Linked DNA regions of Homo sapiens: region 1 is linked to region 2. Evidence: fine-mapped expression QTL. A gene starts in region 2. The other region holds a variant in brackets. All regions are shown on one strand. Distances are from middle to middle.

What was found. PIP is the estimated chance that this variant, and not a neighbour inherited with it, causes the effect.
Region 1: its variant is fine-mapped to the expression of SSC5D in ileum (GTEx, PIP above 0.99).

The regions. Positions count from the first base shown.
Region 1 is chr19:54,753,898-54,766,049 of GRCh38, forward strand. It overlaps the pseudogene KIR2DP1. Among named protein-coding and RNA genes, the nearest start is that of KIR2DL1, 9.8 kb to the right of the region's middle. RefSeq lists an enhancer at 9,908-11,107. The variant C/T (reference allele first, on the strand shown) is at 6,785.
Region 2 is chr19:55,481,091-55,493,242 of GRCh38, forward strand. SSC5D (scavenger receptor cysteine rich family member with 5 domains) reads left to right here and starts at 7,346. Exons shown (of 14, transcript NM_001144950.2): 1 at 7,346-7,524; 2 at 7,916-7,942; 3 at 8,264-8,572; 4 at 8,792-8,905; 5 at 9,208-9,318; 6 at 9,682-9,990. The coding sequence starts at 7,500. It overlaps ZNF628 (zinc finger protein 628), which reads left to right. Exons shown (of 3, transcript NM_033113.3): 3 at 111-3,397. The coding sequence ends at 3,283. It overlaps NAT14 (N-acetyltransferase 14 (putative)), which reads left to right and starts at 4,098. Exons shown (of 3, transcript NM_020378.4): 1 at 4,098-4,168; 2 at 4,571-4,690; 3 at 5,318-6,476. The coding sequence starts at 4,619. The coding sequence ends at 5,866. RefSeq lists silencers at 1,032-1,326, 3,888-4,307 and enhancers at 1,164-1,877, 4,408-4,737.

The DNA.
Region 1 (12,152 bases), 730 kb before region 2:
AAGGGACTGTGTGTACATGGATGTATTTTAGACAGTTTCTGCTAAGGGGCTGTCTGTGTCCACACACTTGATGATGCTACACTTTATGTAGCCTTATAGAACCCTTTAAATTTAGTAGCCAGAGCCCTCTAATTTGTTATTATAGGCTATTTGCTTTTTTTTTTCTTGAGGCGGAGTCTTGCTCTGTCGCCCAGGCTGGACTGCAGTGACACAATCTCAGCTCACTGCAACCTCCGCCTCCCAGGTTCAAGCGATTCTCGTGCCTCAGCCTCTTGAGTAGCTGGCGTTACAGGTGCCTGCCACCAGGCATGGCTAATTTTTGGATTTTTAGCAGAGACACGGTTTCACTATGTTGGCCAGGCTGCTCTCAATCCCCTCATCTCAGTTGATCCGCCCACCTCGGCTTCCCGACGTGCTGGGGAAACTTGATTTTCTATAGCATTATGTTACTGGATATTTCTGTAAAATTTAAAATGAGGGAGGCAGAGAGACAGAGAGAGATCAAACTCCAGAGTTGGGACTCTGGAATCTTGGGTCATGAGACAAATTTTAGATTAAACTACAAAACTCCAGAATTTACAGGTGTGGTTTTTGCTGATAAAGTACAATTCTAACATTGTAAATAATTGCATAATCCTTCCCTGGGAATTTAAATCATTTTAACTGGTTCTGCTGTAATACTAGAAATACAAGCATGAAAAATTCTAATGGTTTATTAGTCACAATGACTCTGAAAACCTTAATAATACCTATTAAATATTTTGCATATTACACATGAAGAAGAGTTTGAATCTCAGATAAAAACAATAAAAATACATGAAAAGTCTTTCACGTTAGCACAGATTTTAGGCATCTCGTGTTCAGGAGGTTGGATCTGAGACGTGTTTTGAGTTGGTCATAGTGAAGGACGCTAGGTGTAAATTCTAGTGAGAACAATTTCCAGGAAGCCGTGTTCCGCTCTTGAGCGAGCACCCACTGGGCCTCATGCAAGGTAGAATGAGCCTGCGTACGTCACCCTCCCATGATGTGGTCAACATGTAAACTGCATGGGCAGGGCGCCAAATAACATCCTGTGCGCTGCTGAGCTGAGCTGGGGCACGGCCGCCTGTCTGCACCGGCAGCACCATGTCGCTCACGGTCGTCAGCATGGCGTGTGTTGGTGAGTCCTGGAAGGGAATAGAGGAAGGGAGTGTGGGGTTGGAGATCTGGGCCCAGAGGTGGAGATATAGGCCTGGAGGTGGAGTTGTGGGCCTGGAGTGGAGATCTGGGCCTGGAGTGGATATATGGGCCTAGAGATGGAGTGATGGGCCTAGAAGTGGAGATCTGGGCCTGGAGTGCCGATAGGAACCTGGAGGGGAGATAGGAGCCTGGAGTGGAGATATGGGCCTGGAGGTGGAGTTATAGGCCTATAGTAGAGATATGGGCCTGGAGTGGAGATTTGGGCCAGGAGTGGAGATATGGGCCTAGAGGTGGATATCTGGGCCTAGAGTGGAAATATGGGCCTAGGATGGAGATATGGGCCTGGTTGTGGAGATATGGGACTGGAGAGGAGATATGGGCCTAGAGTGGAGATATGGGCTTGGGGTGGAGATCTGGGCCTGGGGTGGAGATATGGGCCTGGAGGTGGAGTTACGGGCCTTCAGTAGAGATATGGGCCTGGGGTGGAGATATGGGCTTGGGGTGGAGATCTGGGCCTGGAGTGGAGATATGGGCCTGGAGGTGGAGTTACTGGCCTTCAGTAGAGATATGGGCCTGGTGTGGAGATATGGGCCTGGATTGGAGATATGGGCCTAGGTTGGAGATCTGAGCCTGGAGTGGAGATATGGGCCTGGATTGGAGATATGGGCTTACAGTGGAGATCTTGGCCTGGATTGGCGATATGGGCCTGGATTGGCGATATGGGCCTATGATGGAAATATCGGCCTGGAGTGGAGATATGGGCCTGGAGTGGAGATACAGGCCTAGGGTGGAAATATTGGCCTGGAGTGGAGATATGGGCTTGTGGTGGGGATATGGGCTTGTGGTGGGGATCTGGGCTTGGAGGCTGGGTCTCTGCACAGCCGACAGCCCTGTTCTTGGGTGCAGGTAGGCACTGAGGGTGAGTTTAACTTCAGTCCAGGAAGGGCCTGCCTACCAAGACTCACAGCCCAGTGAGGGCAGCAAGGGAGGGCTGGTTTGCCTGCAGATGGATCGTCCATCATGATCTTTCTTTCCAGGGTTCTTCTTGCTGCAGGGGGCCTGGCCACATGAGGGTGAGTCCTTCTCCAAACCTTAGGGTGTCATCTCCCCACATAAGAGGATTTTCCTGAAACAGGAGGGAAGTCCTGTCAGGGAGCCTCTCATAAACTAGGAAGAGGGGACCCTGGGGTGCTCGGCCCACAGTTCCGACCTCGCCTCCCTGGCCTTTCATTCCCTTGGCAGAGTCAAGTTCTGTGGGGACCAGGGTTAGACTGGGGTGCTCAAAGCTGGGGTGCGTGGTGGGGAAGTGGTAGGAACAGCAGATCCTCTGAGGACAAAGGTGTTACTCACACTTCAGCGTTTCCATGACGGTAGGGGCTGCAGTGTGGCTGCTGTCACTCCACCAGAAGAGGTGGGAAACCACAGCCATGGCCCTGACATTCCAAATCCTCTGATGGGGGCTCAGTTGCTTATTTTCATTCAGGCATCTGCTGATATTCCATTCTCAAAGACATGCCCTCCACCCCATGTCTACCCTGTGTTGTTTTATGTGAGTAATCTTACAGTATTAAAATCTAGTAGGAGTCTCTTACTCAGCACTTGCTCAAAGTTCTCAGCTGACACTTTTGTTGTAGGGAGACACCTTGTGTTTGCGGGATGGGTCCTTCCTTTAGCCCTGGGCACCAAGGTGTGATAGCAGCCATAGAAACTTGGAAAGCGAGGAGAATCTTCAGAGCACAGGGAGGGAGGGGTGGCTCCACATCCTCCTCTCTAAGGCGGTGCCTCCTTCTCCCCAAGGTGGTCAGGACAAGCCCTTGCTGTCTGCCTGGCCCAGCTCTGTGGTGCCTCCAGGACATGTGATTCTTCGGTGTCATTCTTATCTTGGGTTTAACAACTTCAGTCTGTAAAAGGAAGATGGGGTGCCTGGCACTGAGCTCTACAACAGAATATTCTGGAAGAGCCTTTTCATGGGCCCTGTGACCCCAGCACACACAGGGACGTACAGATGTCGGGGTTCACACCCACACTACCCCAGTGGGTGGTCGGCACCCAGCAACACCCTGGTGATCATGGCCACAGGTCAGAGGGCTCCTGTCTTGGATTCTCCTTTCCCACCTCCTGAATCCCAGAGCTTCTGGTGGGCGTGTCCTTGAGGGTCCCATCACCCAGGCCCTGACTATATTTGGGGTAAAGGGGGATTGAATACAGGGAAATGGGTGCTGTGGTGGGAAGAATAATTGTCCCCAGTGATGACTACATTCTAATCCCTGGAGTCTGTGACTATTTATGTTATAGGGGAAGGAACTGAAGGGGAAGATGGAGCTCAGGTTGTTGATGAGTTGACCTTGAGATGGGGAGACAGCCTGGACTGTCCCGCTGGGCTCAGTGTAATCACAAGGGTCCACATGAAAGGAGGAGGAAGAGGGGAGTGGGGATTAGAGCAGCGCAATGGGAGACTCCACCAGCTTTGAAGGTGGAGGAAGGCCAGGAGCCATGAATGCAGGTGGCCTGTAGAGGTTGGAAAAGTCAAGGAAATGATTCTCCAGAGTCTCCAGAGGGAACGAAGCCCTGCAGATGCCTTGATTTTAGCCCAGGAAAAACAGGGTCCTATTTCTGTCTCCAGTAGTGAAATGGGTCAGTGTGCTCTCTCCTGCTGCCATGCTTCTGATAATTTTCTACAGCAGCAACAGGAAACCAACACTGGAACCCAGGTCAAGGACAAGGTAAGAAACAACACAAGGATAGCCGGGTGTGGTGGCAGGCGCATGTAATCCTAGCGACTTGGGAGGCTGAGGGCAGGAGAATCACTTGAACCCAGGAGACAGAGGTTGCAGTGACCCTAGACCACACCACTTCACTCCAGCTGGGGTGAAGGAGTGAGACTCTGTCTCCATAATTAATTAATTAATTAAAGGAACCAAACAAGGGGAAGGTTGGCTACACCGAGATGAGCAAGTGTGGGATGATGATGCCACCACCAGGCTCCATCCACATAGGGAGGGGTTGATACTCCTCAAACCAGCACCAGGAGCCAGCCTATGGAAGCTGGCACCATGGAGAAGGCACAGGCATGGCAAGAGTGGCTCCCAGTCCCGACCAGGAACAGGGTGTGTGGACACTGGTGCCTGCCTTATTCATCAGTTCATACCTACTGCCAAGGATTCCAATTCATCCAAAAGAGATTGAACCAGGCTGATAAGAGGCTGGATGTGCAGCCTATCCTGGTTCCTCTTTCACCCCCACATAAACAGCAGGAAAGACATTAGTGTGAAATAGATACAACACCCCAAGAGATGAGGCTAAGCCCAGTGGGAAGGGAATCAGAGGCGACTAGAGACAGAGGGACAGAGAAGAGGGAGGGAGACAGATGGAAGGACCTGCACCAGGAGTTATGGGCACAGAAAAGAACATGAAGACACAGAGAGGAAGGAGAGAGACAGACACCAGCAAGGGGAAGCCTCACTCATTCTAGGTGCCATGGATGGGATGATAAAGAGAGACACCTTCTAAACTCACAACCTCTCTTCCTAGGAGTCCACAGAAAACCTTCCCTCCTGGCCCACCCAGGTCCCCTGGTGAAATCAGAAGAGACAGTCATCCTGCAATGTTGGTCAGATGTCAGGTTTCAGCACTTCCTTCTGCACAGAGAAGGGAAGTTTAACGACACTTTGCACCTCACTGGAGAGCACCATGATGGGGTTTCCAAGGCCAACTTCTCCATCGGTCCCATGATGGAAGACCTGGCAGGGACCTACAGATGCTACGGTTCTGTTACTCACTCCCCCATCAGTTGTCAGCTCCCAGTGACCCTCTGGACATCGTCATCACAGGTGAGAGTGTCCGGACATTCTTCTCATTGTCATTGGGATGCAGAGTGAATGATCCACGACTTGGAACCCCCAGGTAGTTGTAAGGAAGATGAGCTTGGTATTCTTATGGAGAGAGACTGACTTGGTGAGGTCTGTACCAACAGAGACAGAGAAACAGGAGACACAAGTACAGACCAGGTGTCATAACAGAGGACAGACACAGGGGCCATACCGGGAGTTAGAAAAGACAGAAGGAGTTAAAGGAGACAGACAGACAGACATGTCCCAGAGAGAGGTGTCCCTCCATGCTGACTTTGCTCAGAGACCTGGCACAGGTTAGAAGTTTCATTTCTGTTTTACCTCCACAAAGTGTTCTCTACCAGGAGAACCCAAGGACACCCATATTTCTGACCTGAGTTGGGCCCTGTGGCCTCAGGCCTTGTGGCACCTACAGATGCCGTGTTTATTCTGACACCTCTGCCTTCCATGTAATGGAGAGTAACCGTCCCAGGATATCATGGCCCCAGAACACCAACTCCTGTATGCTGTGTGAACTTGTGGTCTCCAGACTGGATTCTGAGGCTCACATTCCAAATAACCCCACATATGAAAGGATCACTGAGAGGCACAGAGAGAAATCAGGGACACCAAAAAGCAAAGACATAAACACACAGAGAATGAGCCAGAGGAAGGAGATTGAGAGACTCACAGACACATAAAGAGAGAGAAAAGAGGGCAGAGGAGTGGTGAGAATGATGGAAGGGAGCAGAGAAAAGCACTAAAATTAGACTCCTGAGGGAGAGGCACAAGGACATAGAAAGATGGAGATGTGGGGATGAATTGCAGAGATTCCAAAGAGAACTAGAGAGACCGAGAGGCAGAGCAAGACAGATGATAGATGGATAGATATAGATAGATGATAAATAGGTAGATGATAGATAATAGGTTAAAGATACATAGATGATGATTGATTGATTCATTAATAGATGAGACATAGAGATGATGATGATGAAGACAGATAGATAATACATAGAGATAGAGAGGCAGACAGAAGTCATAGAGAGAGAGATGATACATAGATATAGATAACAGATGATTGATGGATAGATAGACAAGTGATAGATACATAGATGATATATAGATATAGATGACAGGTAGAGAATTTGTAGATAGGCACCGAATAGATAAATAGATAGATCGATAGATAATAGATAGAAATATGCAGAAAGTTATGAACAGGACACAAAGTGAGAAACTTAGAATTTAAAAAAGTAACATCAAGTCAACCAATCCAAGGAGAGTCAGAGAGAATAAAACAATCCAAAAAGGGAAAACATATCTAGAGGTGTGGAAGCGAGGTCAGAGACCTAGAGAGACAGAGAAGGTGGAAGGAGGAAATAGACATGAAGAGAGATGGGGTGGAGGGTGAGAGAGAGAGAGAGAGAGAGCATTAGGTCATAGAGCAGGGGAGTGAGTTCTCAGCTCAGGTGAAGGGAGCTGTGACAAGGAAGATCCTCCGTAAGGAAAATGCCTCTTCTCCTTCCAGGTCTATATGAGAAACCTTCTCTCTCAGCCCAGCCGGGCCCCACGGTTCTGGCAGGAGAGAGCGTGACCTTGTCCTGCAGCTCCCGGAGCTCCTATGACATGTACCATCTATCCAGGGAGGGGGAGGCCCATGAACGTAGGTTCTCTGCAGGGCCCAAGGTCAACGGAACATTCCAGGCTGACTTTCCTCTGGGCCCTGCCACCCACGGAGGAACCTACAGATGCTTCGGCTCTTTCCGTGACTCTCCCTA[C/T]GAGTGGTCAAACTCGAGTGACCCACTGCTTGTTTCTGTCACAGGTGAGGAAAGCCCATGGCTGTCCCATGTCCTATGATCCTAGAGCCTTAGCTGAGGAGCTTCCTGCTGAGGATGGAGAGAAGGATGAACAGATGCAGAGAGAAGACGAAGCTTGGGTGTGAGGGAGGGATCAGGGCACAGGATGGCAGACAGGGCACCTCCAAACCCTCCTACATGGCCTGCATGAAGGCCTGCGGCCAGGACTCCAGGCACCCAGGCAGATGGAGAAAGCGGTCAGGAGAGACCCAGAGGAGGGAGACTGGGCTCAGTTTGGGAAGATCAGAGGTTCCCTCAGCCCCTCAACATTACCCATTTCCCAGAAGCCCATCCTGGCCTCCCACCCACACAGGGATGTCATCACCTGCAACCCCTACACCCTTTACTTTTGTTTGAGAAATATTTATTGAGGATAAATATACCTATATAGCTTACCACCTTTAACATTTTTTTTTTGAGGCGGAGTCTAGCTCTGTCCCCTATGCTGGAGTGCATTGGCACAATCTCAGCTCACTGCAACTTCCGCCTCCTGGGTTCAAGCGATTCTCTTGCCTCAGCCACCTGAGTAGCTGGTGCTACAGGCGCGCACCACCATGCCAGGCTACTTTTTGTATTTTTAGTAGAGAGGGGGTTTCACCATGTTGGTCAAGCTGGTCTCGAACTCCTGACCACGTGATCCACCCGCATCAGCCTCCCAAAGTGCTGGGATTACAGGCATGAGCCACCACGCCCAGCCACATTTACCATTTTTAAGTGTAAAGTCTAGTGGTCATAAATACATTAATATATATATATATACACATATTTTTTTTTACCCTCCACCCTTTTCTTCCTGGCCTCTGGTAGCCACCATTCTACTCTCTACCTTCATGAGATCCACCTTTTAGCTCCTGTATATGGGTAAGAAATGGGAATCTTTGTAATGACCTCCAGTTCCATCCATGTGGCTGCAAATATCAGGATGTTTTTCTTTCTATGGAAGAGTAGTCTCCACTATGCAAATGTACCACATTCTCTCTATCCATTCACCCACTGATGGGCAGGTAGGTTGACTCCTCATCTTGGCTACTGTGAAGAGTGCTGCACCAATCATACGAGTGCAGATATCACTTCGATATATTGATTTACTTTCCTTTGGATATAAACCCAGTAGTGAAATTGCTGGATACTATGAAAGTTCTCTTTTTAGTTTTTCGTTTGTTGTTTTGTTTTTGTTTTTGAGACAGTTTCCCTCTGTGCCCAGGCTGGAGTACAAGTGATGTCATCTTGGCTCATTGCAACCTCTGCCTCCTGGGTTCAAATGATTTTCCTGCCTCAGCCTCCCTAGTATCAGGGATTATAGGCGCACGCCACCATGCCTGGCTACTTTTTGTTTTTTTTAGTATAGATGCGGTTTCCCCATGTTGGCTGGGCTGCTCTCAAACTCATGACCTCAACTGAGGTGCCCGCCTCGGTCTCCCAAAGTGCCGGGATTACAGGCATGATCCACCTCACCCAACCTCTTTTTAGTTCTTTAAAGGACTTCCACACTTTTCTCCGTAATGGCTGTACTAATTTACACTCCTACCAACAGGATACCAGGATTCTCCTTTCTCTAACACCTTGCCAGCATTTCTTTTGCCTGTCTTGCAGCTAAAAGCCATTTTATTTTATTTCATTTTATTTTGAGATGGAGTTTCGCTCTTGTCACCCAGGCTGAGTGCAGTGGTGCGATCTCGGCTCACCACAACCTCCACCTCCCAGGTTCAAGCGATTCTCCTGCCTCAGCCTCCCGAGTAGCTGGAATTACAGGCACACGCCACCACGCCCGACTAATTTTTGTATTTTTAGTAGAGACAGTGTTTCTCCATGTGGGTCAGACTGGTCTCAAACTCCCGACCTTATGAGATTCACCCACCTCAGGCTCTCAAAGTTCTAGGATGACAGACGTGAGCCACCACGCCCGGCCTAAAAGCCATTTTAATGGGGTGAGATGAAAACTCACTTTGATTTTAATTTGTGTTTCTCTGATGATGAGTGATACTGAGCACTTTTTCGTATGTGGGGAAATTTCATGTCTTTTGCTCCTGTTTCAATTAAATCATTTGTTTTATTGAGTTGTTTGAGCTTCTTATATTTCTAGTTATTAATCCCATCTCAGATGCATAGTTTGCACATATTTGCTCCCAATCTGTGGGTTGTCTCTTCACTTTGTTGGTTTATTTTTAGCGGTGCAGAAGTTGCTTAGTTTGAGGTAATCCCAATGGTCTATTTTTGCTTCGATTACTTGTGTTTTGAAGGTTTAAAACAAAATGTCTTCCTTCAGACAAACGTCCTGGAGCATTTCCCCAATATTTTCTTCTACGTGTTTCATAGGTTCAGGCCTTAGACTCACATCTTTAATCCATTTTCATTTGATTTTTGTGTATAGTGACAGGCAGAGGTGCAGTTTCATTCCTCTGCATGTCGATGTCCAGGTTTCCCTGCACTGTTTATTGAAAAGACTGTCCTTTCCTGATTGTGAGTTCTTGGCACCTTTGTCAAAGTCCATTGGATGGGCTGGGCATGGTGGCTGACACCTGCAATTTCAGCACTTTGGGAGCCCGAGGTGGGTGGATCACCTGAGGCCAAGAGTTCAAGATTAGTCTGGCCAACGTGATGAAACATCGTCTCCACTAAAAATATAAAAATTAGCTGAGCATGGTGGTCAGCACCTGTAATACCACTACTCAGGAGTTTGAGGCAAGAGAAGTGATTGAACCCAGGAGGCTGTGGTGGCAGTGAACCGAGATTGCACCTCTGCACTCCAGCCTGGGTGACAGAGCAAGACTCCATCTCAAAAGAAAAACAAAAAATACATTGGAGGTAAATGCATGGATTATATCTGTGTTATTCATTCTGCTCCGTTGTTCTATGTGCCTTTCTTCATGCCAACGTCATGCTGTCTTGCTTACTACAGCTCTGTAACATATTTTGAGATCAGGTAGTGTGATGCTCCTGTTTTCTCTTTATACCTTGAAGTCTCAAGACAGTAGCCGTCACATACAAAAATTACGGAAAAAAGGATCCCAGGACTCCCAGGGCCCAATATTAGATAACAGAGTGTTGGCCATGAACCAACCTCAAAGATTTCCACTGAGTAGAGGACAGACACCCTCATTTCCTCACCTCTCTCCTGTCTCATGTTCTAGGAAACCCTTCAAATAGTTGGCCTTCACCCACTGAACCAAGCTCCAAAACCGGTGAGTACAGAACCCTCTTATATCCGCTTTTGGAAACCTGGGGAGGTGGAAACCTTGGATTCAGGCGTTGACTCAGCATCTCACAGCTCTGACATTGTACGCCTGTCTTCTACCATCTCCAAACTCCAGATACTCCAACAGCGAAAGGGATCTGGACCCAAAACAGGGCTCTGTGAAATCTCTTAATCTCTCATTTTATGGAGCTGAGATCTCCTACAAGCTAGAAAAATGATTGGCAATCTGACATCCTTCTCAGGAAAAATGCAATGTTTGTTCTGCCTGCATTCCTAACTGGAGGATAAATTCCTGGGGGCTTGAGAGAGGGAAGGGTAGGGAACATTTGATGAGGGCGAGGTGTTTTAGAGAAGTTCCACTTGCCCAGGAATGAATTACTGTTGGTCATGAAGCAACCCTGGCTGACTCAGCAGAGCAAGAGCTTTGCCTTAACAGAGAACGGAGCTCATGCACGCACACTTCGACTCACTGACTCATTCAGCCACGGCCCCATGCTCAGGCCGTGGAAAAGGCAATTCCCAGCACTGCAGGAGGCCAAGGCGGGTGGATCACTTGAAGTCAGGAGTTCCAGACCAGCCTGGCCAAAATGGTGAAACCCTGTCTCTATGAAAAATACAAAAATTAGCCGAGCATGGTGGTGCATCCCTGTAATCCCAGCTCCTACTCTTGAGGATGAAGCAGGAGAACGACTTCAACCCAGGAGGTGGAGGTTGCAGTGAGTGGAGATTGCATCACTGCACTCCAGCCTGGGTGACACAAGGAGACTCCGTCTCAAAAAATAAAAATAAGAAATGCATAAATATAATAAAACACACACGAATGACAAAGGCACCTGAATTCCAATCATCATTTTTGTATTTCTCTATAATTACTTCTTTGATCCTTTGTCTTATCCATTAGGCAATGAGCCTAAAACCTCTTCCGTATTTGGCTTTCTGTGAGCATGAGACCATATAGAAAATGTGAAAGCCTGCTGAATCCTCCAGCACAGATCGTGGAATAGAGAAAGTGCTCTGTTCATCACAAAAAAAACTTGCCCTCTCACTCAAATCCCCCACTTCACCCCTACTTCCAATCACCTGTGGAGATTCAGATAGACCATGGGGAGGTAAACATTAATACTCCTTGGAGTGAGTCCAGATCTTGGAATGAGAGATCAGCACCAGCACTAGCTCCTGCTCCCCTTTCCTACTAATTCACAGGAGGACAGGTGGTATTGAAGCAATAGATGGTGGAGGGGGTGGTCCTTCCCCCAGCCTCTCAGGTAGAACAGCAGCCTAACATGTGTCTCCCGAGATCACAAAGAGTAGGACGTTTCACAGGGGCTTCAACACGATTTCCTGGCTGTTGGACATAAGATAACTCTATTTCGCTTTTTTATCTTGATTTCACTTTTGTTTCCTTTCCTTGGAGAACGCAAGTTGTTTGACTCAAGAATGCTGTGGATGTAGAAATCCTAAAGCACATTCGCTGTGTGTCAATCCCAGTGCAGTCTTCCCAGAAAAGACCCTAAACACCTCCTAGACTGCACCTGGGCCTACGCCAATTCCTATCACTCACCGTCACTCCAGGGAGACAGAACACACAGAGAATACGTTACATAGGCAGGTTCATTACTAACAGATAAGCAGCGAGTGAAAACAGAAGCCTACATTTCAATGTGAGCCAGTCCCTCAAGGCTCAGAAAAGCTGCTCGGGACATATGGAGTCACCCCATTTGCAGTGTAGCTGGGGGAAGCCAGAAAGCAGCCCAGCCTGGGTTTTGTACCCTGGAGCCACAGGAAGCACTCAGCTAAAGCACTGCATGACGTCCTCCTCCAGGAAGAACAGGAAGACAGCCCAGGCTGCTCTGGGACGTTCCTCCTGATCTCAGGACGTTGCTGTCTTAGTCCATTTTTGTTGCTCTAAAGGAACACTTGAGCCTGGGCAACTTCTAAAGAAAAGAGATTGGTTTGCCTCACCGTTCTGCAGGCTGTACTGGAAGCATGGCACCAGCATCTATTTCTCGTGATGGCCTCAGGCTGCTCCCACTCTGGCAGAAGGGAAGGAGGGTCTGTCTGTGCAGAGACCACAGAGATCACACGGCAAGAGAG
Region 2 (12,152 bases):
GTGGGTGACCTGGGGAGGTAGTCCCTGTCCCTTAAAGAGCCCGTGTGTGGGTTTGGGGTTGAGATGATCCAGTGCGGGGGTGAGCCGCTGACCCAGAATCCCTCCCCCAGGTGTGATGGTCGGCTCCCACGCGGACATGGCGCCGGCCTCTACTGCGGAGGGGGCCGGGGAGAAGCCAGGCCCTGCGGCCCCTGCCCCGGCGGCCCAGTACGAATGTGGGGAGTGTGGCAAGTCATTCCGGTGGTCGTCCCGGCTCCTGCACCACCAGCGCACGCACACAGGCGAGCGGCCCTACAAGTGCCCAGACTGCCCCAAGGCTTTCAAAGGCTCCTCGGCCCTGCTCTACCACCAGCGAGGCCACACGGGCGAGCGGCCCTACCAGTGCCCCGACTGTCCCAAGGCCTTCAAGCGCTCCTCTCTGCTGCAGATCCACCGTAGCGTGCACACCGGCCTGCGGGCCTTCATCTGCGGCCAGTGCGGCCTGGCCTTCAAGTGGTCGTCCCACTACCAGTACCACTTAAGGCAGCACACAGGCGAGCGCCCCTACCCGTGCCCGGACTGCCCCAAGGCCTTCAAGAACTCGTCCAGCCTGCGGCGCCACCGCCACGTGCACACCGGCGAGCGGCCCTACACCTGTGGAGTCTGCGGGAAGAGCTTCACGCAGAGCACCAACCTGCGGCAGCACCAGCGCGTGCACACGGGCGAGCGGCCCTTCCGCTGCCCGCTCTGCCCCAAGACCTTCACCCACTCCTCCAACCTGCTGCTGCACCAGCGCACGCACGGCGCCGCCCCCGCCCCGGGTACCGCCTCCGCGGCCCCGCCCCCCCAGTCCCGGGAGCCCGGCAAGGTCTTCGTGTGCGACGCCTACCTGCAGCGGCACCTCCAGCCCCACAGCCCGCCCGCGCCTCCCGCCCCGCCGCCCCCGCCCCCGCCCGTGGTGCCTGAGCTCTTTTTGGCGGCGGCGGAGACCACGGTGGAGCTGGTGTACCGCTGCGATGGCTGCGAGCAGGGATTCAGCAGCGAGGAGCTGCTCCTGGAGCACCAGCCGTGCCCCGGGCCCGATGCGGCGCCCCAGCCCCAGGAGGCACCCGCCGAGGCGCCCAAGGCCGACCAGCCACCGTCCCCTCTGCCGCAGCCCCCTCCTCCCGCCGCCGCCCCCGCGCCTGGCTTTGCCTGTCTGCCCTGCGGCAAGTCCTTCCGGACGGTGGCTGGGCTCTCCCGCCACCAGCACAGCCACGGGGCTGCCGGCGGGCAAGCGTTCCGCTGCGGCAGCTGCGACGGCTCCTTCCCGCAGCTGGCCAGCCTCCTGGCGCATCAGCAGTGCCACGTGGAAGAGGCCGCGGCCGGGCGCCCGCCCCCGCAGGCTGAGGCTGCGGAGGTGACCTGCCCCCAGGAACCGCTGGCGCCTGCCGCCCCCGTCCCGCCGCCACCCCCGTCCGCCCCCGCTTCTGCGGAGCGGCCCTACAAATGTGCCGAGTGCGGCAAGTCCTTCAAGGGCTCCTCCGGGCTGCGCTACCACCTGCGGGACCACACGGGCGAGCGGCCCTACCAGTGTGGCGAGTGCGGCAAGGCCTTCAAGCGCTCCTCCCTGCTGGCCATCCACCAGCGGGTGCACACGGGCCTGCGGGCCTTCACCTGTGGCCAGTGCGGCCTCACCTTCAAGTGGTCGTCCCACTACCAGTACCACCTGCGGCTGCACTCTGGCGAGCGGCCCTACGCCTGCGGGGAGTGTGGCAAGGCCTTCCGCAACACGTCGTGCCTGCGTCGCCACCGCCACGTGCACACTGGCGAGAGGCCCCACGCCTGCGGTGTCTGCGGCAAGAGCTTCGCGCAGACCTCCAACCTGCGGCAGCACCAGCGCGTGCACACGGGCGAGCGGCCCTTCCGCTGCCCGCTCTGCCCCAAGACCTTCACCCACTCCTCCAACCTGCTGCTGCACCAGCGCACGCACTCGGCGGAGCGCCCCTTCACCTGCCCCATCTGCGGTCGCGGCTTCGTTATGGCCGCCTATCTGCAGCGGCACCTGAGGACGCACGCCCCGGCCAACACGCCTCCCAGCACCACAGCCCCTGCCGCCGGCCCCCAGCCCCCTGCTCCACTGGCTGCTGCGCGGGCCCCGCCAGCCACCCAAGATGTCCACGTCCTGCCCCACCTCCAGGCCACGCTCTCCCTCGAGGTGGCGGGGGGCACGGCCCAGGCCCCGAGCTTGGGGCCAGCAGCGCCCAACTCTCAGACGTTCCTCCTGGTGCAAACTGCCCAGGGCCTCCAGCTGATCCCCAGCAGCGTGCAGCCCCCTACACCTCCGCCCCCTCCCGCACCTCCCAAGCTCATCCTGCTGCCCTCCTCCAGTGCTGGGGCTGGGGGCGGCCGTGCAAGGCAGGGCCCGCGGGCAGTGGGGAAAGCGGGCCAGGGGGCGGGAGTGGTCTGGCTGCCAGGCCCTGGGGGTCTAGGGGTGCAGGGAGCGGCCAGCGCTGGGGCCAGCGGGACAGGGCAGAGCCTCATCGTTCTGCAGAATGTGGGGGGTGGGGAGGCAGGGCCACAGGAAATGAGTGGGGTGCAGCTCCAGCCCCTCCGACCAGCCCCAGAAGTAACCACGGTCCAGCTCCAGCCAGCGCAGGAGGTGACCACAGTCCAGCTCCAGCCAGCACAGGAAGTAACCACGGTCCAGCTCCAGCCAGCACAGGAGGTGACCACGGTCCAGCTCCAGCCCGTGGCCGGCCAGCTCTCCAATTCCAGTGGGGGAGCTGTGGCTACTGAGGCACCCAACCTGCTGGTTGTTCAGAGCGGGGCAGCTGAGGAGTTGCTCACTGGCCCGGGCCCCGGGGAGGCGGGGGATGGCGAGGCCAGCACTGGTGTGGTCCAGGATGTCCTCTTTGAGACACTCCAGACGGACGAGGGCTTGCAGAGCGTGCTGGTGCTGAGCGGGGCCGATGGCGAACAGACTCGACTCTGCGTACAGGAGGTAGAAACACTTCCTCCTGGGCTGACGGAGCCGCCTGCCACCGGCCCACCCGGACAGAAACTCCTCATCATCCGCAGCGCCCCAGCCACTGAGCTGCTGGACAGCAGCAACACTGGAGGAGGCACCGCCACGCTGCAGCTCCTGGCCCCACCGCCGTCAGGCCCAGCCTCGGGCCCCGCGGGGCTCCCCGGGGCTCCAGCCTCCCAGATGGTGCAAGTGGTCCCCGCAGGAGCTGGGCCTGGTGTTATGACCCCTCAGGGCCTGCCCTCCATCCAGATTGTCCAGACTCTACCCGCAGTCCAGCTGGTGCACACGTTTTGAGGAGAGGCAGTGATTCCCCTCCCGCCCCGCACAGAGACCCCGACTCACTGCCAGCCGGGGCGGGGCAGGGTGCCGCAGGCTGGGCTTGCTAATAAAGACCCGAGTCTCCCCGCCTGTGTTTTGTTTTCCTGGGGGGAGGGAAGGGGGCAAAGTCATGGTCCTAGCCCCCGCCTGGGAGCGTGGAGTCTTAAGTCTTGCGTCCTGGGTCGCAGATGGCTTGTTCTGCATCCTGGGGCCAGCCACTACGTAGGGCTCAGTTCCCCTGTCCTGAAACCAAAAAAGGCCGCAGGGGTCATTATAGTGGGGAGGTGGTGACATCAGACTCCAGGGAGTGCTACTTGTTCACTGTAGGTCGCCCCGCTGCCCCCCTCGTGTGAGAAGTAGGGGGATCCTTATGCGGAAGGGTTCTGCGACCCCGGGCGCCCCGTGGGTGGAGTGGGGTCCCTGGGGATGGGGGAGTCGGGCGCCAGGATGCTGAGCGTGGCCGGCTCCTCCCGCGAAGGCCCCGGCACGGATGAGAATCCACGCGCTGGCGTCGCCGCCCGGCGCTCAGGTTGCTCAGCAACGAGGGAACGTGGGGCGGGAGCTCGCGCTGGTCCCCAGCCCGCCGCCCGTCTCCTGCCGGCTTCCGCTCCCGTTCTTCCCCAGGTCCCCTTTCCCCGTTGCTCCTTCTCTAGGGATAGGAGAGGTCGCTTCCCGGCCCTCCGCAGGGTCACAGCTCGGTTCCTCCCAGCCCGCCCTCCGGGGAGCTTAGCAACGGTTGCTACGGCCCGGAGCGGGCGCCGCCCCGCCCCACCGCGCGCGGTCTGACGTCACTTCCGCCCGCGACCCCCTTCCAGACCCGCTCCCGAAACCTTGTCGAAGGACCAAAGGCGACCGGTGCAGGTGCTTGCTGGTCCTTGTTCTTGTGGCGCGGGACGGGGACGACTGTGGGGGAGGGGGCGCTGGGGACCGGGGTGGAGCGAGCGTGGTCCGTTCTCTGGCATGTGGGGAGGGTGTTCGTGGACCCCAGTGCCTGGGAGGGAGCCCCGTGCTGCAGTGTTGGCGTCCGCAGCGCGTTTGGGAGTGTAGATCGCTGAATAATACGGGGGAGGGGGGATCCCGGGAGACTTTAGCAAGGTCGCTGAGTATTGTGGGGGGCGCCTGTCCTGCCGAGATCCTCGCTTGGGGGCCCCGAGGGTTCTCAGTGTCCTGATCTGGGAAGTGCCGTTGCTGCTCCCTACCCCTCGGGGGAGCTTTGGGGACAGAGGTGCCCCCCTGACGCTGACCTACTTATGTTCTCACCAGGTGCACGACGCCAGCTCCCTTCTGGGGGGCCGGGGCCTGGGGGTTGCCATGGCCCCCAGCCACCTGTCAGTGCGGGAGATGAGGGAAGATGAGAAGCCCCTGGTGCTGGAGATGCTGAAGGTGAGAGGCAGGGGCCCCAGGGGGCCTGGGAGTGGCTGCAGTGGGGGAATTGCAAGTGGATTCAGCCACCCCCTCCCACCCACCTGAGCCAGCCTGGACCCCTGGAGCGGGATCTTTTCCTCCTGAGCCTCAGCCGCCCTGCTGCTGAAAACCACAGCAGGTGTGGCAGGTGGGGGCTCACCCCCCCAGCCCTACTGGGACCCCAGCACCAACGCCCTCCCTGGTCTCCCATCTCCAGTCGGCTGTGCACGCCAGCACAACAGCCAGCTCTGTGCCTCGGACCCCAACTCTTCAAAGCACAGCCCAGCACCCCAACCTAGCCCAGCAGCCTCCCTCCAGCCTCCACTCCAGCCTGAGGCAACCTCCCTGTCCTTACTTCCCTGGGGCCTCACTGCGGCATTGCTACTGAATTGAGTGCCCCCACAGCTCCTAATTCACTCATCCATCCATCATTCGCTCTCGTTCATTCATTCACTCCATACCCAGTGTGCCACACTGAACATCGGACTGTGCTGCCTTCCCTTCCCATTTGGGAGCTCTCACCCCGCCCCGGGCAGGGTCTACCTCCTCTCTTTGTCCAGGAGGCCCTAGCGTTTCGGATGGCTGAGCCACCCCTCCTGCCCACAGGCCGGCGTGAAGGACACGGAAAACCGCGTGGCCCTCCATGCCTTGACACGGCCGCCGGCCCTGCTCCTCCTGGCGGCGGCCAGCAGCGGCCTGCGCTTTGTCCTGGCTTCCTTCGCCCTGGCCCTCCTCCTGCCGGTGTTCCTGGCTGTGGCCGCCGTGAAGCTGGGCCTGCGGGCCCGATGGGGCTCGCTGCCTCCGCCGGGTGGCCTGGGGGGCCCCTGGGTGGCCGTGCGGGGCTCCGGTGACGTGTGTGGGGTCCTGGCTCTGGCCCCTGGCACAAATGCAGGGGACGGGGCCCGGGTCACCCGCCTGTCTGTCTCTCGCTGGCACCGCCGCCGGGGCGTGGGCAGGAGGCTGCTGGCCTTCGCGGAGGCCCGGGCTCGGGCCTGGGCTGGGGGCATGGGGGAGCCCCGGGCCCGGCTCGTGGTCCCCGTGGCTGTGGCCGCCTGGGGGGTGGGAGGGATGCTGGAGGGCTGTGGCTACCAGGCCGAGGGGGGCTGGGGCTGCCTGGGCTACACGCTGGTGAGGGAATTCAGCAAAGACCTGTGAAGCTACAGACTGACAGCCAGGGCAGGGGAGGAGGGAGGGGCGCCAGCACCTGATGATCGCCTACTGTCTGCGGGTTCTTTTACCTGCTCTCCCTCAGTGAGTCCTCAACCACCCTGGGCCCAGAAACAGAGGCCTGCCGAGGGGAGGAGCCTGGCCTCTGTCCACCCGTCAGCAGTGTGAAGTCTGTTGTGTTTGAGCTTCTCAGAGTGGAATGACTCCTTTTCCTTCCTGGCCCTCGGGGGCCTCTCGAGGTCAGCCTCTCCAACCCCTACCTCAGCTCCTGTCTGCACTGAGAAACCTCCCCGGGTGATGTCTGCAAAGTCTGTGCTGTCCGTGCCCCAGGCTGGGAGAGCTATCTGGGGAGGGGGAGAGGAGGCCGAGCAGAATACACCCCAGAGTTAGGGTTTGCGACTCCGCCTCCCTGGGACCTGGATTGGGTCAGATGCCTGTCCTTGGAGGGGACAAGGTTGACTGCTTAGGAGGCGCGACGCACAGGGCTGCCAGGCCTGGCCCCTCTCTGGGAAGGTTGAGAGCTGAGACGGGCAGCCCTGTCCCTTCCTCCAGATCCGTCTGGTTTTTTACACCGTTTGTTAATAAAGCCTGAAACCGCTGTGTGCCTGTCTCTTCTCTGATGGCTTTCCCAGTCTGTCTCCGGACACCCCCGCCCATTTCTGTCTGGCTTCTCCTTTCCCCAGTTAACATTAATTGTTGGGGGACGGTGCTGGACTGGGAGAAGGGGAGGCTGTGAGCTCAGGGGCAGCCCGAGGCCCTGCCAGCCCTTCTGAGTCACGCTCCCCATTACCGAATTTTTTCCGCCTCACAGCTGCCTGGTGTGCAGGCAGTGGGGTGTGTGTGTGTGTGTGTGAGTGTGTGGAAGAGTGTGTGGAGCCCCTCCCCTTCCCAAGCCTTGACCCTTGTGCTGCTTATCCCCCGACCCCAGCTCCCTCTGGGACAGTGAAGTTCAACCTCTCCTCTCTCAGCTGGGGACTGGGGGCTTCACACTCAGATCCACCAGTGAGTGGGAGGACTGGAGGGCCGGGTCTTTCAGTCTCTTTTCCTAACCCAGGAAGTCCCTCCTGGTGTCTGGCTGCAAATCTTCTTGCTGCTGCACCAAGAACCCCAGGTCTGCCCAGCCCCCAACCCTAGCAGTGGTCTCACTGGATTTCCCTGACCAGACAAGAGGGGAGACAGCAGGTGGGCGCCCCTCCCGCTCATGCTGCGCCCCCCCCGCACACGTCCCCCAACCCCTGTCCTGTGCCTTCCTGCAGCCGGCCACCCCCTAAGCATCTCTGGGCACAGCACTTTGCTGGCTGGAGCCTGCCTGGCCGTCGTCTCCATCTCCCGTGTGGGTGTCTGCAGTTGGACACCCTCCCTCCCGCCCGCCACCCCCCTCCCCCCCATGCCTCAGCAGACGGCCAGCCCCCTCCCGCCCCCCCTCCCCCCCACCGTCCCCTGCCGCCTCCCTGCAGCCTCTTTCTTCCTCCTGGCAAAGCGTCCAGCCCTGCCTGCTCCTCCTCGGGCCTGGGCGCCTCCAGCAGGCACTTCCCTCCCTCCCTCTCTCCCCAGCTGCCTCCTCCTCTTCTCTCCCCGCTCTCCTTCCCCTTTCACCCCATCCCCTGCCCTGGCTGCAACCATGAGGGTCTTGGCCTGCCTCCTTGGTGAGTGATCCATTCTCCTTGGGGACTCGGGGGGCCTAGGCCCCCACCTCTGACCCCTTAGCTTGTCCAGTTTAGGGACTCAAACTTCCGGGACTGGTCGCTGGTGCTCCTGCATACCCTGACATCCCTTCTGAGGATCCCTGCTCAATCTGCCCAGCCTTCTGCCAGCCCAGAAGCCCAAGGGACCTGCCCCCTGCCCGCCCCCCAGCCCTGACCCTGCGGGGGATCTCCCAGACATCTGACCTTTAGCCAAGCCCATGTGTGTGTGTGTGTGTGTGTGTGTGTGTGTGTGTGTGTGTGTTGGGGTATTCAAGATGAGGGGCCTGCGCTGGAGAAAGGGCCACCCCCGGCCTGCCCCTCACACTGCCCCACCCTCCGCCCTCCCTTCCAGCGGCCCTGGTGGGGATCCAGGCTGTTGGTAAGTGCCCAGACTCCTCCCATCTGCCCGCCCCCCCCCCCAGGCCTCCCCCTTCTGCCCATCCAGGCCTGGCCTCACCCCCACTGGGTCCCCGGCCCATCCGAATTCCACTGTGACCTTGGCCCCAGCTCCGCAAGGGAATCCCCCAGGTGTCTGGCCGCATCTCTCTGAGCACCCAGGAGTCTGGGCCCAGGGGCCAGTGAGCAGGGCCACTGGCCTACAGACAGTACCTGCAGGACAGCCACCTGCCCCTACAGTTGCCCTGGCCTTGGGGCCCCCAGGATGCCCCTCCCCAGTCACAGCCATTCCTCCAACCCTCAGAGCGCCTGCGCCTGGCCGATGGCCCCCATGGGTGCGCTGGCCGCCTGGAGGTCTGGCATGGCGGGCGCTGGGGCACCGTGTGTGATGACGGCTGGGACCTGCGCGATGCCGCCGTGGCCTGCCGGCAGCTGGGCTGCGGAGGGGCACTGGCCGCCCCGGGAGGCGCCTTCTTCGGGGAGGGGGCAGGGCCTGTGTGGCTCAGCGAGCTGGCTTGCCGGGGCAACGAGGGGCAGCTGGGCCTCTGCCACCACCGGGGCTGGAAGGCCCACATCTGCTCCCACGAGGAGGACGCGGGCGTCGTCTGCGCAGGTGAGGACACCCTGGCTGCTCCTTCAGGGGGAGCTCCTTTGGAGATGACCCAGGAACCCCAAGTCCTTAGCCCCAGCAAGTCTGAGTGTTCAGCAGTTCAGAGACACCCAACCTCCCATCCCCTCCAAAGCCAGGTGGCTAACTCCCTCTTCCAGGGACCCAAATGGCCTGGATTCCCCTCCTCTCCTCATAGCTTCTGTCCCTGCCCCCCCGCCGCAGGTCAGCGTGTGGCTAACTCCAGGGACGACTCAACATCTCCCCTGGATGGGGCTCCCTGGCCAGGGCTGTTGCTGGAGCTGAGCCCCAGCACGGAGGAGCCCCTGGTGACACATGGTGAGCCCAGGGGACTGCCCTGCCAACCCCCACCCAGCGTGCCCTCCTGCCCCCCCCGAGGGGAGAGGGACTGCCCTGCCAACCCCCACCCAGCGTGCCCTCCTGCCCCCACCGAGGGGAGAGGGACCTCTGCAGTATGAACTCCCAGGGGACACACAGCCCGCCCCCTGCCCCGCCCCGTCTCCTTCATAGCCTAGGGAGTCCTCCATCACTTCAGACCCTCAGAGACGGAGGCCTGGGCCCCCAGGTGGGAGGAAGGATGAGGGGCTCAGCTCCTGACCCCTGGCTGTCTCCACTCCCAGCCCCCCGCCCAGCTGGGAACCCCCAGAACGCCTCCCGGAAGAAGAGCCCCCGGCCCAAGCAGGCCAAGTCCACCCGGGCCCCTCTGCTGACGACAGGAGCCCCCCGCCAAGGTAAGCTCCCTGCAGGCTCCCCCGACCCCAAGGCTGGTTGCTGTGAGGCCCAGGGCCCAGAAAAACTGAGGACCTGCGGGCGCCCTCTCCTTAGCCGGGGCCCTGGAGGGATCCCAGTGTTCCCCGCGTCCCTCCCCCGGGGATTTAGACGGCCAGGCCTGGTCTCCCCTCTTCTTCCTGCCCTGTCAGGAGGCCCAGGTGTCCTGGCCCGCTCAGGTCGTGGACTCACCTCTTCACGGGCTGCCGGCGGACAGATCTCAGGCCACCGCTCCCTCAGGCCTGTTTCCCCAGGTGGAAATCGAGGAAGGGGTGTTTGAATCATTTCTCACTGGCCACACCGTCCCCTCCCTGCTCACCCCACAGAGCGGCTGCGCCTGGTCTCTGGCCCCCACAGGTGCGCCGGACGCCTGGAGGTCTGGCACGGCGGGCGCTGGGGCACCGTATGTGACGATGGCTGGGACCTGCGCGACGCTGCTGTAGCCTGCCGGGAACTGGGCTGTGGGGGGGCGCTGGCTGCCCCCGGCGGTGCCAGATTCGGGCCTGGTGCAGGGCCCGTGTGGATGGACGATGTGGGGTGTGGAGGAGGAGAACAGGCCCTCCGAGACTGCCCCCGAAGCCCCTGGGGCCGGAGCAACTGTGACCACAGCGAGGATGCGGGGCTGGTCTGCACCGGTACGTCGGGCTGGGGCCTGGCCCCCTCCTGTCTTCCTCAGACCCCAGCTCCCTCTTGCCCCTCCAGGAAGCTGCAGCGGGCCTGCTCCCAGCTCTGCCTCCTGCCCGCCTGCTCTCTGCATGCCCAGCGCCCACTCACCACGCTCTCCAGCCCCTCCTTCCACAGCTCCTGCCGTTCTCCTTGCCAGGAATGGGAGGAGCAGGCTTGAGGCTTGGGCTAGTGCTCAGCCCTGTCCCGGGGCCTAGGCCAGTGACCGTTTGTTTAAGCCTCAGTTTTCCTGAAGGAGCGATGGAGCTAAGAATGCCTGCCTCAGGCTTGAGCCAAGTCCTGGAACGCAAGAAGCCCTGCCTGCCCTCTGCCACCGGGCTGGCCATGGCAGGGGACCGTCTCGGAGACCTCTTGTCTCTGTGGCCAACCTCTGCTCCTTCCCCATCCTCAAGGGAGCTGGTGGGAAGGAGGGAGGGAGGGCGGTGACTTGGGGGCATGGAGGGAGACTGAGGCAGGGTGGGGACACCCACGGGTGAGCCTCCATCTCCCCTCATTCACGCCCCCTCAGCGCGGGGTCTCCTCCCCTCATGTCTCCCAGGGGGTCCCTCCCCTCTCCTGTACCCCTTGGACCTGGGATAGAACCCAGCAAACAGCGGTTGGGGGGTGTTAGGTGAGAGCTCAGGGGCTCCCTCCCTCCTTCTCTCCTTCCTTCCTTCCTCCCTCTTTCCCTTTCTCTTTCCTTTCTTTCCTTCCACAAATCTTTACACACCACCACGGCAGGCCCCACCCTGCTGGACTGCCCGATCCATTGACTGTAGGAGGCCGGCAGGCAGAGGGCACCCACCTGGCATTTCATCAGCGTTGGGGTGGGGACAGTACACGGGCTGCAGGCAAAGCTGGGTGCCTGCCCAGGATGGGTAGGAAATGCTGACATCAGTGGGTATCCAGGGGGGAGAGAAGAGAGAAAGAGGCTGACCCTAGTCTCTGCTGTATGCTGGGCCCTGCGCTGTGCACGTTACCTGGGGCCGCTCTGAGCCTCCCGCAGCCCGGACGGGGTGGATCCTCATCCCTCTCTTCACAGATGTGGGGCCGAGGCTCAGAGAGGTGACGTAAATGGCCCAAGACCCAGGTGCCTAGCAAGCTCCAGCCCCAGCCGCTGACCCCTCTGGGTCTGTATAGACCCACGCTCCATGCCTGTCCCACTGCACAGTCGGCCATAGGGACGTGGTGGGGACACGGAGGTCAGAGTGGGAGTGAGCAGCAGAGAAGGCTTGTATGGGGTGGGGGTGGTGCCTTCGTGTGCCTAGTGTACAAGCTGTGGGGGAAGAAGTGGGACCTTCGGAGCAGAGTTCATTGGAGGGAAGTTGAGGCTCTGGAGAGGAGAGGGTGAAGGTGCCAAGAAAGGAAACAAATGAACTAAGGCGCCCGGTGAAGCTGGGAGCTTCGCCAGCATCTGATTTAATTCTCATGGCAACCCCGGGAGGGAGACGCTCCCCTCCCCTGTCTGCAGATGAGGAAAAGCAGACAGGTGTGTTAGACTCCTCCCTAGTTCTGTGCTCTTCTCTAGAACAGTGATTGGGGGCAATTCTGCACCTGCCTCGTTGGGGGACAGAGAGAGGGACTCCAGAGTCCTCCAATGATGAGTCAACTCTTACCCCAACAGAAATGTACCCGAAGAGCCAGGCATGGTTACAGGCTAACACCTGTAGCCCACGTGCTTTGGGAGGATTTCTTGAGGCCAGGAGTTCAAGACCAGTCTGGGCAACATAGTGAGACCCTTTCCCTACAAAATATAAAATAAAAAAAAAATAGCAGGGCATGGTGGCGCATGCCTGTAGTCCCAGCTACTTGGGAGAGGCTGAGGCGGGGAGGATTCCTTGGGTCCAGGAGGTCGAGACTGCAGTGAGCCAAGATTGCACCATTGCACTCCAGCCTGGGTGACATAGTGAGATCCCCTCCCCCCAAAAATAAAAAAATGAAATGTACCCTATGTATCCTAAGGCCAGCGAGAGGTTAATATCTAGACTAGTGGCTCTCAGCTGGCAAGGGAGTGAGGGCTTTCTCATCCCCTTCCTCCCCAAAGGACATCAGGCAATGTCTGGAGACGTTTTTGGTTGTCGCAGCTAGGGGGAGGGGTTGCCACTGGCATGTGGTGGGTAGAGGATGCAGTGCA